Linked DNA regions of Homo sapiens. The protein of the gene in region 1 interacts with the protein of each later gene in a pairwise test. Each region holds a gene or a part of one and is shown on either strand. Other genes may lie near its edges.

What was found.
Region 2: the proteins of NCALD (region 1) and CREM interact in binary tests that used the Homo sapiens proteins (3 or more experiments, as listed by UniProt).
Region 3: the proteins of NCALD (region 1) and C1QTNF2 interact in binary tests that used the Homo sapiens proteins (3 or more experiments, as listed by UniProt).

What each region holds. Positions count from the first base shown.
Region 1 is NC_000008.11:101,721,223-101,724,977, forward strand, and holds part of NCALD (neurocalcin-delta), read right to left. Parts: intron 130-3,755; exon of another isoform or gene 1-129. UniProt on the Homo sapiens protein: May be involved in the calcium-dependent regulation of rhodopsin phosphorylation. Binds three calcium ions.
Region 2 is NC_000010.11:35,206,789-35,210,543, reverse strand, and holds part of CREM (cAMP-responsive element modulator), read right to left. Parts: intron 3,650-3,755; coding exon 3,493-3,649; intron 1,233-3,492; coding exon of another isoform or gene 1,187-1,232; exon of another isoform or gene 1-1,186.
Region 3 is NC_000005.10:160,364,010-160,367,764, reverse strand, and holds part of C1QTNF2 (complement C1q tumor necrosis factor-related protein 2 isoform 1 precursor), read left to right. Parts: intron 1-3,755. UniProt on the Homo sapiens protein: Involved in the regulation of lipid metabolism in adipose tissue and liver.

The DNA.
Region 1 (3,755 bases):
GCATATCCCCATTTTAATGATTGCCAATCTTCTTTGCGATTTCACGCATTCTGGGGTTTGTTTCTGTCTCCCTCCTGCTACACAGTCAGGCCCTTGAGGCAGAGTCTCCACTGGGGTTGCTTCGTCTTCCTAGAGCCCACCGCAAATGGCATTTGGTGAATGAATGAATGAAGGCATGACTGAGAAAAATGACTGATAGGAAGGTAACTACAAAGTGGAAACATGGAATAATTTTGGAAAAGGAGGCTCACTGCCAGAAGCACGGGGGCTTGGTTTTCAGAACGCTATTTTACACACTGAAAACTATCTGGTGGTTAAGACTTGAGCTTAGGATCTCTTATATTGAATTTAGTGAGGCCTGTCTGGTGGCCTCACTAAAAATAAACTTCTACGGGGTGGTGTTTGTATCTCACGCTACTCAAACTGCTTGCATAATACTCATGGTTCAGATAATGACCAGCAATCCTCATTCATTGCCAAGTTTATTGATTTTGTTTTCTGACTTCTGCACTGGAGGCAAAACCTGCCCTGCTCATATGCAGGTGTCCAAAGTGATGGGAGTATGGGGCACTTCACCTATGAGTATGGCCAACTGCTGTAGGAAGGAACTTACTTTTTGGGTTCCCCCTGCCTTTTTTTTTTTTTTTAAGACTCTGTCACTCAGGCTGCAATGTGCTGGTGCAATCATGGCCCACTGCAGCCTCAAACTCTTGAGTTTAAGCAATCCTCCTGCCTCAGCCTCCCAAATAGCTGGTATTACAGGTGTGTACCACCATGCCTGGCTAAATTTTTTATTTTTTGTAGAGATGGGGGTCTCACTTTGTTGCCTAGCCTGGTCTCAGACTCCTGGGCTCATGCCGTCTTCCAAATTGCTGGGATTGCAGGCATGAGCCACCACGCTTGGCCCAGAGTTCCCTCTTTAGGCAGAATCAAGCAAACACCATTTTATGCAAAAGCAAAATTCAACTGCAACTCAAATGGAGAACAAATGGAATTTATAAATTGAACAGTCTAATATCTTTCACTTCCCTCTGTGTCCTTTTTTTCCCCTGGAGATTAAAAAAACAGAGTTACAGAGGCTGGTTTGTATTAGAATTGTAAAGCTGTCATTTAGTTGCTAAGTTGGCAATTTGCCTGAGGCCAGAATTCAGAAACATCCGGTAATACATAATACCCGGCTTTCTAGAGCTCTGAGACATTTTATGGAATTTACAAGTAATTTCAAGTTTTCCTTTTGGGGAGTTCTTTAGAATATATCTCTTTGGTGTGGTTTTCAATCAAATCACCATTTTTACAGTTTGTGCAAATTGCTGCTTGCCTGGCCTTGGGGAAAAATGCCATTCTGATATTTAAATCTACTCTCTTAAAGAATGATTTATGTCTCCAATGTATAAAGCACTGTTTCTTCACAACCAAACTTAAGTGCCTTTCCCAGTGTTTAAAAAGTGCTTCAAATTTATTAGCTGCTTTTGCACTAGAAACAAATTGCCTCAACATTTTAGCTAAGTCTCCCACTGAGACTGATCTGTGTGCAGCTATTTTTTGGTAAACAGTAATTAAACCACATTTACAAATTCATCAGCACAGAAAGGCCATAACACAAACAAGTCAGAAAAGCATGGAATAAGTTATTGGGAAAACGAGTGTTCACAATTAAGCCTAGAATTCATCTACAAACACTTTACTAAGTATGAGGACTAAACTTGAGACACCATCTGGACTTGGTTAGATGGTACAACACAAATCTTAGGGGACATTTGACAGAGTTTCATTCCTTAGGTGGTGAGGAGGAAGACAGAGGGAAGCCTGACAATACCTTTTTCTTTGGGAAGACAGGAATTTCTGCCCGTTTGAGTCGAAGGGATGGGGCAGGATAACATTAGGGAAATGCTACAGTAATTGGCAGTTAAGAGAAAAACAGTTTGGAGACAAAAATTGCACCTTGGGTCAAATCGTTTTCATAACTCCAGTCAGTCATTAAAACATTTATTTTGTGCTAGTTGAACATAGGTATGACAGGCTGTCTTTTAATAATTTTTTCTCTATTAAGTTAATTGCAGTATTATTTCACCGTCGCCATTTACATTTACTTTTCAGGTATCAGAGACTTATTGCTTTAAGTAGCAAATTACCTAAATTATGAACACATATTTTCAAAACACAAAATTGAGTTCAAAATTACCAAGTGTATATATACTGTGCAGAAGATTAAAAAAACTGAATTAGCATATATTTCTTTTCTAAAGTTCCTATGAAGAACTTACACTCTCCTATACTATCAATCCATTCTGTATATTTAAAATAACATTTGTTTTTATTTAAATAGTCAAAAATATAATGGCTTACACTTTTGTAAGACTAACCAATAAAAAAAGGACTCCAATTTTAAACCAATCCCTGAAACCAAAGCATCAAATATTTTAATATTAGTTCAATATTTCTACATAGCACAATAAGGTTTTCGCAAACAGTAACTCAAAGTTTTGTCTTTATTTTTAATCACGGGAATGGCCTACAATTCAGATAAGCCCACAAATTCATACTATCTTATAAACAGCAGTAACATTAATATAAACAATGTTAATTCAGTTATCTTAGGGGCCTTACCATATCATTAACCTATTTACAGAACAAAAATGTTTCTATGAAAGCTAATATATCTTTTCATGTTTGTTTGTTGTTAAGTGTGCTACAACAGAAATAGAGGTAGAATCACATTTTTCTTAAGTAACACTCTATAAGCCAATTCTACACAATTAAGGCATTTTTGCAATCTAAAATAGTAATGCTAATACTGCTTCAGTAAACTAGATTTACTAATTTAAGAATCCTAAGAAATTACGTATATGTGACTTTCAGACATCCATGTTAAACTACCAACTAATCAAGTTGTGGAACTGTTGTTCTCTGCTCACACTTAACATTCTTGAATGACCATAAAGTGGATAATGCTAAAATTTTTTCTAATCACAGTTTTTCTTATAAGTGACTATATGATATTTTACCATTTCTAAGAGGAAAAAATGAGACCTACTTGGCAGTCTGCATAGGCTGGTGGAAACTATAATCAGAGTGTAAAGACAAATCTTCAAGTGACTCAAAAAAGTTTGTAGATAACTCAGAATATAATCTGTTGGGAACTATGACACGTTGGCCTCCTGGATGTCCTGTTGGATGAACACTGGAAAAACACTAGAATAAAAATGCTTGGCTTCAAAGCCTGGCTCTATTGTTTACTAGCTGGTGGGTAATTCACTTAACATTTTGGTTCTCCTCAGTTTTCTCATCTGTAAAATGAGTTTAATGATATGAGTTCATCTCTTATTGATTCCATGTGAGAGTTAAATGAGACAGTCAAACATGTAAAGCTCTGGCATTCAGTCAGGGCCAGACGCTGCCATAAATGAAAATGATGCCTTATCCTAGATGATCTTTCATGTGACATCCTATTAAACTTTCACAACCTGTGTGATAGGCAGGCAGGCTTTCTCTATCTCATAAGCAAATAAATGAAAACTCAGAGAGGCTAGGTGACTTATTCCAGGTGACACTGCTTGTGAATGAGAGAGCCTAACTGTGAGTGTGGGCTGCTGCTTGGTTGCCCAGTGGTTTTAGCCCTATGCTCTACTAGCCCCAAGGACAAAGCATTTATAGAGATTAAGACAACAATCCATAAAAAGTCAGAAAGAAGTAGTGAAGAAGAAGGAGACAACCTCCTTTTGGAACTCATTTATTCCACAAACAGGCACTAAGTG
Region 2 (3,755 bases), on another chromosome or scaffold:
GCTACTGAGTAACTCTGGGCATATTTCAAGACTGTTTCCTAATCACATGCATTTAATATCCAATATATTGAATTTTAAAGCACTATAAGCCCAAAATGAAAGAACAGACCAGTAGCCAAAGCAACAACACAAACAGATGAGTTGACTTAGTCATTTTCATACATAACCCCACCAAAACAATAAATAGAGCCAACATTTTCTCTTTTTCTTTTTTTCAGGGTGGGAGGGATGGCAACCACTTCCCTTAACTCCTATGTAGAAGACACCCTTTAATTGGCCTCATTTTGGAGGATTCAATTCCAGAATAACTGCCTTTGAGGTAGATCACCCTTCATGTCAAAAAAGCCTGCACTGAAACAGACACTATCATTCAAATATGTTAAAAAAAGCAGTGTTGAATGTCTAAACACCAGTTTCTGTAATGCCAGCTAGCATCCTGAACCACATGTGATGTATACATGATTTTTTTTTTTTTTTTAAGATAGCTGACTCTCACTGAGTGGATATCTGTGTTTTCACTATGGAAGCAAGAGTCAGCAAAGAAGAACCTTCAATCCAAATGAACTGCAGGAAAAGATCAACCCCTGCTTCCTAGCCAGGAACAATGGACTCACCCTGTGAACATACAAAGTTCTCAGACTTCTCAGCTGGTTAACAAAAGAAATTTAAAATGTAAAATTGAAAAGAATGTTATAGTGACTAATTTAATCTAAATGATGCAATTGGAAAAGTTAAGAATAAATCCAAACACACACATTTGCCAATTTGGGGACATAATTTAACTCTTTTCCACAAAGGCACTGAAATTCATTTATGAATACCAACGTTTTCATGATTAAATTATATTAAATTCTAGACCTAGAAGGAAGATAGTCATTTTACAAAACATGGTTACCATTAAATGAAAAATTTAAAGACCTAATAGCGGTGTTGCGGGTGTTTAAACATTTTCTTTAATAAGCTATTATAAATACTCATACTTCATCTTCTACATTTGAGTGTGCATGTGTGTGTGTGCATGCACAGACACACATATTACTAGAGTCAAAATGTTGCAGGCACAAAGCTTTCCCCGATCACATCAGTAGATGGTACATTCCTAAGCACTCCTCAGCCATGGAAAACACCTGTTTCTTCTATTAATAGTGAGCTCGGTTTTCAGGCTTGCATGTGTCTGGGTGTATCCTCAGCACGGAGAGGAAGTGCAAGGCAAGGAAGAAACTCTGACAAGGCTGGAAAGAAATAAAAACTGTTGCTGGATTGGCAGAAATACGATATAATGAGATATCGATTATAGATGCCAATCAAAGAATAAAAAGAAAATATGTAAGAGATCTATCTGTGAATGACTAAAGCCTCACACTTCCCCAGGAAGTGAAATTTGCAGGTTATCATGGGGTATTTTTGAGATGCCTGATGCTGGTATAGAGGACAGGCTCTGGAATAAAGACTGCCCGGTTGCCCATCCTGGTTCTGCCCAGTTTGGGCCATGTGATCTTGACCAACTTATTCCTTAACATCTCTGAACTTCTGGTCCTCATCTGTAAACTGGGCATAATAATCACCTATTCTCATGTAAGCATTAAACACACAGTAGAAATAAAGCACTTAAAATCTGCTAAACAGATAATGAGCAACCTAACAGCCAGGTATCATCTGCATTTCTCTTGTCTTGCTCTGAAACTGAGATTTAGAAAGCGAAAATAAACCTTTCTCAGAATCCTGTACAGCTAGGGACTAAAGACCTATTTCTAGCCAATGAAATGTAGGTGAAAGTTGCTGGGAGGATCTTCCAGGAAAGGTTTGCAGTTGGGCCAGACCTCAGCTAGCCCCAATTTTTGGCTCTAGCCCTTCTTCCTGTCTGAGGCAATGCCTAGAGGTTCAGTAGCCGCGCTGTGATCATGAGAATGAATGATACATGCTGAAGATGACACAGCCGGGAGCGGGAGTCTGGGCCCTTGATAACACTGCTGAATCTCTGTCCTGGCTGCACACAATGAGGACATTATTTGACATTAGGACTAAGGTGACAAGACTACTGGGAAACTCTAAGACAATTCTGTTCCTTTTGAAAATCAGATTAATTTGCACCATTATTCATAATAAAAACTAAACCAATAAATAATATACAAGTTAAATAAAATTTTATTTATGTTTAAATTTTTAAAAAGTTTTAGAAAATAGCATTTTATAATATGTTGCTTAAAAATAAAATGACAGAGATATGGAGCAAGAAAAAGTGAGAGAAAATGAGAGCTGACTGGAAGTACATAGACTATAATAGGAGGTATCCTAAGTGGTTAGAGCCATGGATGATTTTAATTCTTTTTGTTATTTTGTATTTGCACTTGACTAGAATTTATCAGATTAAATATGTATTTCAGTGTAATAGAGGAAAAAAAGTTAAAAAATAGACAAAAGGAAACTACATGTAGAAAATGTCGAAAAGTAACGCCTCACTTACACTTCATTTTTCTCAGAGAGAAGCTAAAAAATTCGACTTATCACCTACTTCACAGCAAATACTAAATACAAAATAGCTCTTTGTTTCTAACAAAGTCCTTTAATCATTATTTTTAAAAATTACTGTATCTTTTGGACATCACCCTTACAACATAGGGATGTAACTCCTGCTGATGAAATAGTTTAACAGCCAGGAATTCTGACTGGAAGACAATCTAATAACACACACAGAGCACAAACCTACATGAAATGCCACACAACATGTAACTTGGGAGAAATGGCTTATGAAAACTGTAATTTTTTTTTTTTAAGACGGAGTCTCACTGTCACCCAGGCTGCAGTCCAGTGGCGCGACCTCAGCTCACTGCAAGCTCCGCCTTCCGGGTTCAAGTGATTCTCTTGCCTCAGCCTCCCGAGTAGCTGGGATTACAGGTGCACACCACCACACCCAGCTAATTTTTGTATTTTTAGTAGAGACAGGGTTTCGTCATATTGGCCAGGATGGTCTCAATCTCTTGACCTTGTGATCTGCCCGCCTTGACCTCCCAAAGTGCTGGGATTACAGGCGGGAGCCACTGCGCCCAGCTGAAAACTGTAATTTTTATTTTTATTTTTATTTATTGATATTATTTTTATCATTATTTTATTATCATTTATTAATATTTAATATTGTTTTATTATTTTTTTGAGATGGAGTCTCGCTCTGTCGCCCAGGCTGGAGTGCAGTGGCACGATCTTGGCTCACTGCAACCTCCGCCTCCCAGGTTCATGCCATTGTCCTGCCTCAGCCTCCCAAGTGGCTGGGACTACAGGCACCTGCCACCACGCCCGGCGAATTTTTTTGTATTTTTTAGTAGAGATGGGGTTTCACCGTGTTAGCCAGGATGGTCTTGATCTCCTGACCCTGTGATCCGCCTGCCTTGGCCTCCCAAAGTGCTGGGATTACAGGCGTGAGCCACTGCGCCCGGTGAAAACTGTAATTTTTAAAAAGTGTCCTAGAAGTTACCGATTCCCTGTGCAACACCTCACCTGTTTTTCATTAGCCTCAGCTCTCGTTTGCGTGTTGCTTCTTCTGCCAGCTGCTGGGGACTGTGCAAACTTCCGGGCGATGCAGCCATCACCACTCCCTGTGGCAAAGCAGCAGTAGGAGCTCGGATCTGGTAAGTTGGCATGTCACCAGTGGCAGCTGCAGTAAAACAAAATATTTTGAGCTTATATAAAGAATTCATAATTTGGCATTTTACATAAAACTGATCTGGAAATGATATACTTTTGACATCTCATAAGAGGTG
Region 3 (3,755 bases), on another chromosome or scaffold:
ACTGTGGACACTGTAGAACACAGGCTCTCTGTCCTAGTCAGCGTGGGGCACCGTGACAACACCACAGACTGGGGAGCTGCAACAATAGACATTTATTTCTCACGATCCCTAGAGGCTGGAAGCCCATCATCAAGGTATCTGCAGTGTTGGTTTCTTCTGAGTCCTCTCTCTGTGGCTTGCAGGTGGCCATCATCTGCTGTGTCTTCACATGGTTGTCACTCTGTATGTGTCTGTGTCCTGATCTCCTCTTAATGTAACGACACCACTCATACTGGATTAGGGCCTACCCATATGACTCATATTACCTTGGTTACCGTTTTTAAGGTCCTATCTCTAAATACAGTCCCATTCTGATAATCTAAGAGTTAGGACTTCAATGTGTGAATTCTGGGGAGACACAAGTCAGCCTGTAATACCTTGTCTCAAGGGGCAGCTACCTGTTGACCTGCCCAAATGCAGGCTCAGTGCTGCCCAGATCCTTCTGCTGCCCAAGAAAAGCTGCAAACGTCGATGTTAACAGAAAATCTCCCAAGTTTTACATTGGCAACAATTTCAAATTAAAAACCCAAAACAAAAAGTACAGAGTAGTCTGTGATCTGTGTGAGGCCACTGATAAGCCAACTGATCCCTGCTTGTCTAGGCTATAATTTCCTCAGTGGCAGGGGCATGTTCCATAGCTTTTTAATCCTCCTCAGCCAGTCTCTGCACGTTGTTTATTCTTTTTCTTTTTTTTTTTTTTTTTTGACAATGTCTTGCTCTGTTGCCCAGATTGAAGTGCAGCGGCACAATCTCTGTTCACTGCAGCCTCTGCCTCCTGGACTCAAGCAATTCTCCCCACTCAGCCCCCCAAGTAATTGGGACTACAGGCATGCACCACCACGCCCGGCTAATTTTTGTAGTTTTTGTAGAGATGAGGTTTTGCCATATTGTCCAGGCTGGTCTCGAACTCCTAGGCTCAGGCACTCCACCTGCTTTGGCCTCCAAAAGTGCTGGGATTATAGGTGTGAGCCGCCGCACTCAGCCTGCACATTGTAATATTAACAAAAAGTTAAAAGCTAATCACTGAATGACTAAATTTGAATTTTACAATCTTGTGTAAAGTAGGGCACACCTGTAGAAATCCTGTACCTCTTTGCATTTATGCCCAGCTATACAATTGCATCAGCCATTATAACTGCTTTCATTGCCATTGATGCCAAAGTTTGCAAATGTTCAGCTCCTCACGGGGTCACTGTTACGGCCACTTTACAGATGGGGAAACAGCAGACCCAGGTCTATCCAGGTTTACCCAGGTCTGCTTGTTTATTCTCATGAGTGTGGCAACCTTCTCCCATGACATCATCTTTCTCTTTGTTCTCAGGAATGATTATTGTATCAAAAATCACTACTGTTACTGAGTGCTTACTGTGGGCTGGTTGCTGCATTATCTCATTAAATATTCACAATTACTCTGTAAGGGAGGTGTGAGCAGTCAAATTACTCAAGGGAGGCATTCCTAAAGACCTCAAATAATTCAAAACTGGTATCATTAAAAGCTCACGGGCCGAATGGAAAACCAAACATTGTATGTTCTCACTCATAAGTGAGAGCTAAGCTATGAGGATGCAAAGGCATAAGAATGACACAATGGACTTTGGGGACTCAAGGGGAAAGGGTGAAAGGGAGCAATGGATGAAAGACTACAAATAGGGCACAGTGTGTACCGCTCGGGTGATGGGTGCACCAAAATCTCACAAATCACCACTAAAGAACTCACTCATGTAACCAAACACCACCTGTTCCCCAATAATCTATGGAAATTAAAAAATTTTTTAAAAAAGCTCACCTGCTGAAGAATGGTAGATATTTCTGATTACCTGTTAGGACAGTGCTGTTATGTGGCTATAGCATAAATACAGTTTACAATTTACAATTCACACTGCCTTACAAGATTTTTGACAACTTTTAACTTGGGAAAATTGGGGTTATTTCAGATTTCACACATCAAGTGAAACAATGAATATTCAAATTCAAATAAGACCATACAGTATTATTTTTCTCATTTTACAGACAAAGAAACTGAGGCCTAGAGAGATTAAATAACTTGGCCCAAGGTCAAACAGCTGGAAAACAACTTAACCACCAGACCAGCTCGTGCTTCTCTAGGGGTAGACCTGTATCTGATTTTTTTTTCTTTGTAGAGATGGCGGGGTGAGGTGGGGGGAGGTCTCACTTTGTTGCCCAGAGGGTCTCACTTTGTTGGCCAGACTGGTCTCGAACTCCTGTCTTCAGGTGATCCCCCCACCTCAGCCTCCCAAAGTGCTAGGATTATAGATGTGAGACATTGTGCCCGGCCCTGTATCAGAAGTTTAGGGTTACTCCGAACGCCCATCAAGGCCTGACCAGAAATGACTCCATGGAAGTTCTTGGGTTCACCCAGAAAAGTCAAGGAAAACTTAGCCTTTTCTCCCTGTCCCCTTCAAAGTTCAGATTCTGTTTCTCTCCCTCAGTTCTTAGATCTTCAAGTGTAGTCCCTTTTATGTCATTCCCAGGGATTGTTGCCTAATCCCAAAATTTCCTTCCCCTGCCGCCTGCCTGGTCTTGAATGCTGTTATGTCTAGATGCTGTTAGGTGCCTATTACAAAGGAAAAGGAGAGTGAGGCTTTTCTTTCCCGGTTACACAGGTGTGCCAGCTGGATGCTCAGGTAAGCAGACAGTTATAACCTGCCCAGGTAGTTCTAGGGATCAGAGTGGGCCCTACAGGAGCAGCAACTACATCTTTTCACCTCTAATTCCCCAGTGTCTGGCCTCAAAGGCAGTAATAATAAACCATACTATTTATTGGGTATCCATGTGCCAGGCTACAGTATCATGCACACATGCACACCTCATATCCCATTTGGCCCTGTCGCTTGATGAGATGAGCACCATCCCGCTTCTTCCCTGGTCTTTGTATTATGGAGCACAGACACGCCAGGTGGCTCAAAGTTGTGGAGCCAAGGCAACACCCCATCCTTCCCTCAGAGCAGAAACAGCAAGGCAGGAAAAAAGGCCCAGCCTCCCTAGGACTTTTTTTTGGTAGCACCTGACAGAGCCATCACTCAAAGTGATAAGTGAAAATGGGAATTTATGAGAAGCTACAGGAGTCTCTACCTGAAATGCATGCAGGACTCAGGGTGGCAGATCAGGACTGGTTTTTGTTAGTTCAACTGCAGTTAGTGGCAATTACAATTTTAAACAAGGTCTTAAAACTCGTATCATTACATTCAACATCCATTATCTTGTTTGATTTTCGGAAGGGCAAGAAATAATAAAATAATAGAAGCTAATGCTTTTATACCTCTTGCCATATGCCAGGCCTTATTCTAGAAACATTAAATCCTCGTAACAACTGTCTAAGGTAGGTTCTATTATTATCGTGTTCATGTTGGAGAGGAGGAGACTGAAGGGGAGAGATTAAGTAACGTGTAAAGGTACTACAGCTAGTTCATGGCATCTGAACTCACACAGCTATGCTGGAGCTATTATGGAAGCCACCATGCGGCTATTGGAGACTTGGAATGCTCCAGTCTGAATTGAGATCCGCTGCAAGTGTGAAATACATCACTGGGCTTCAAAGACTTAGTACTAACTTAAGAATGTAAAATGTCTCATTAATAATTTTTATGGTGATTACATGTTGAAATGATGATATTTGGGAAATCAAGGGCTAAATAGCATTGAAATTAATTTCACCTGTTTCTTTTTTACTTTTTTAATGTGACTACAAGACAAAC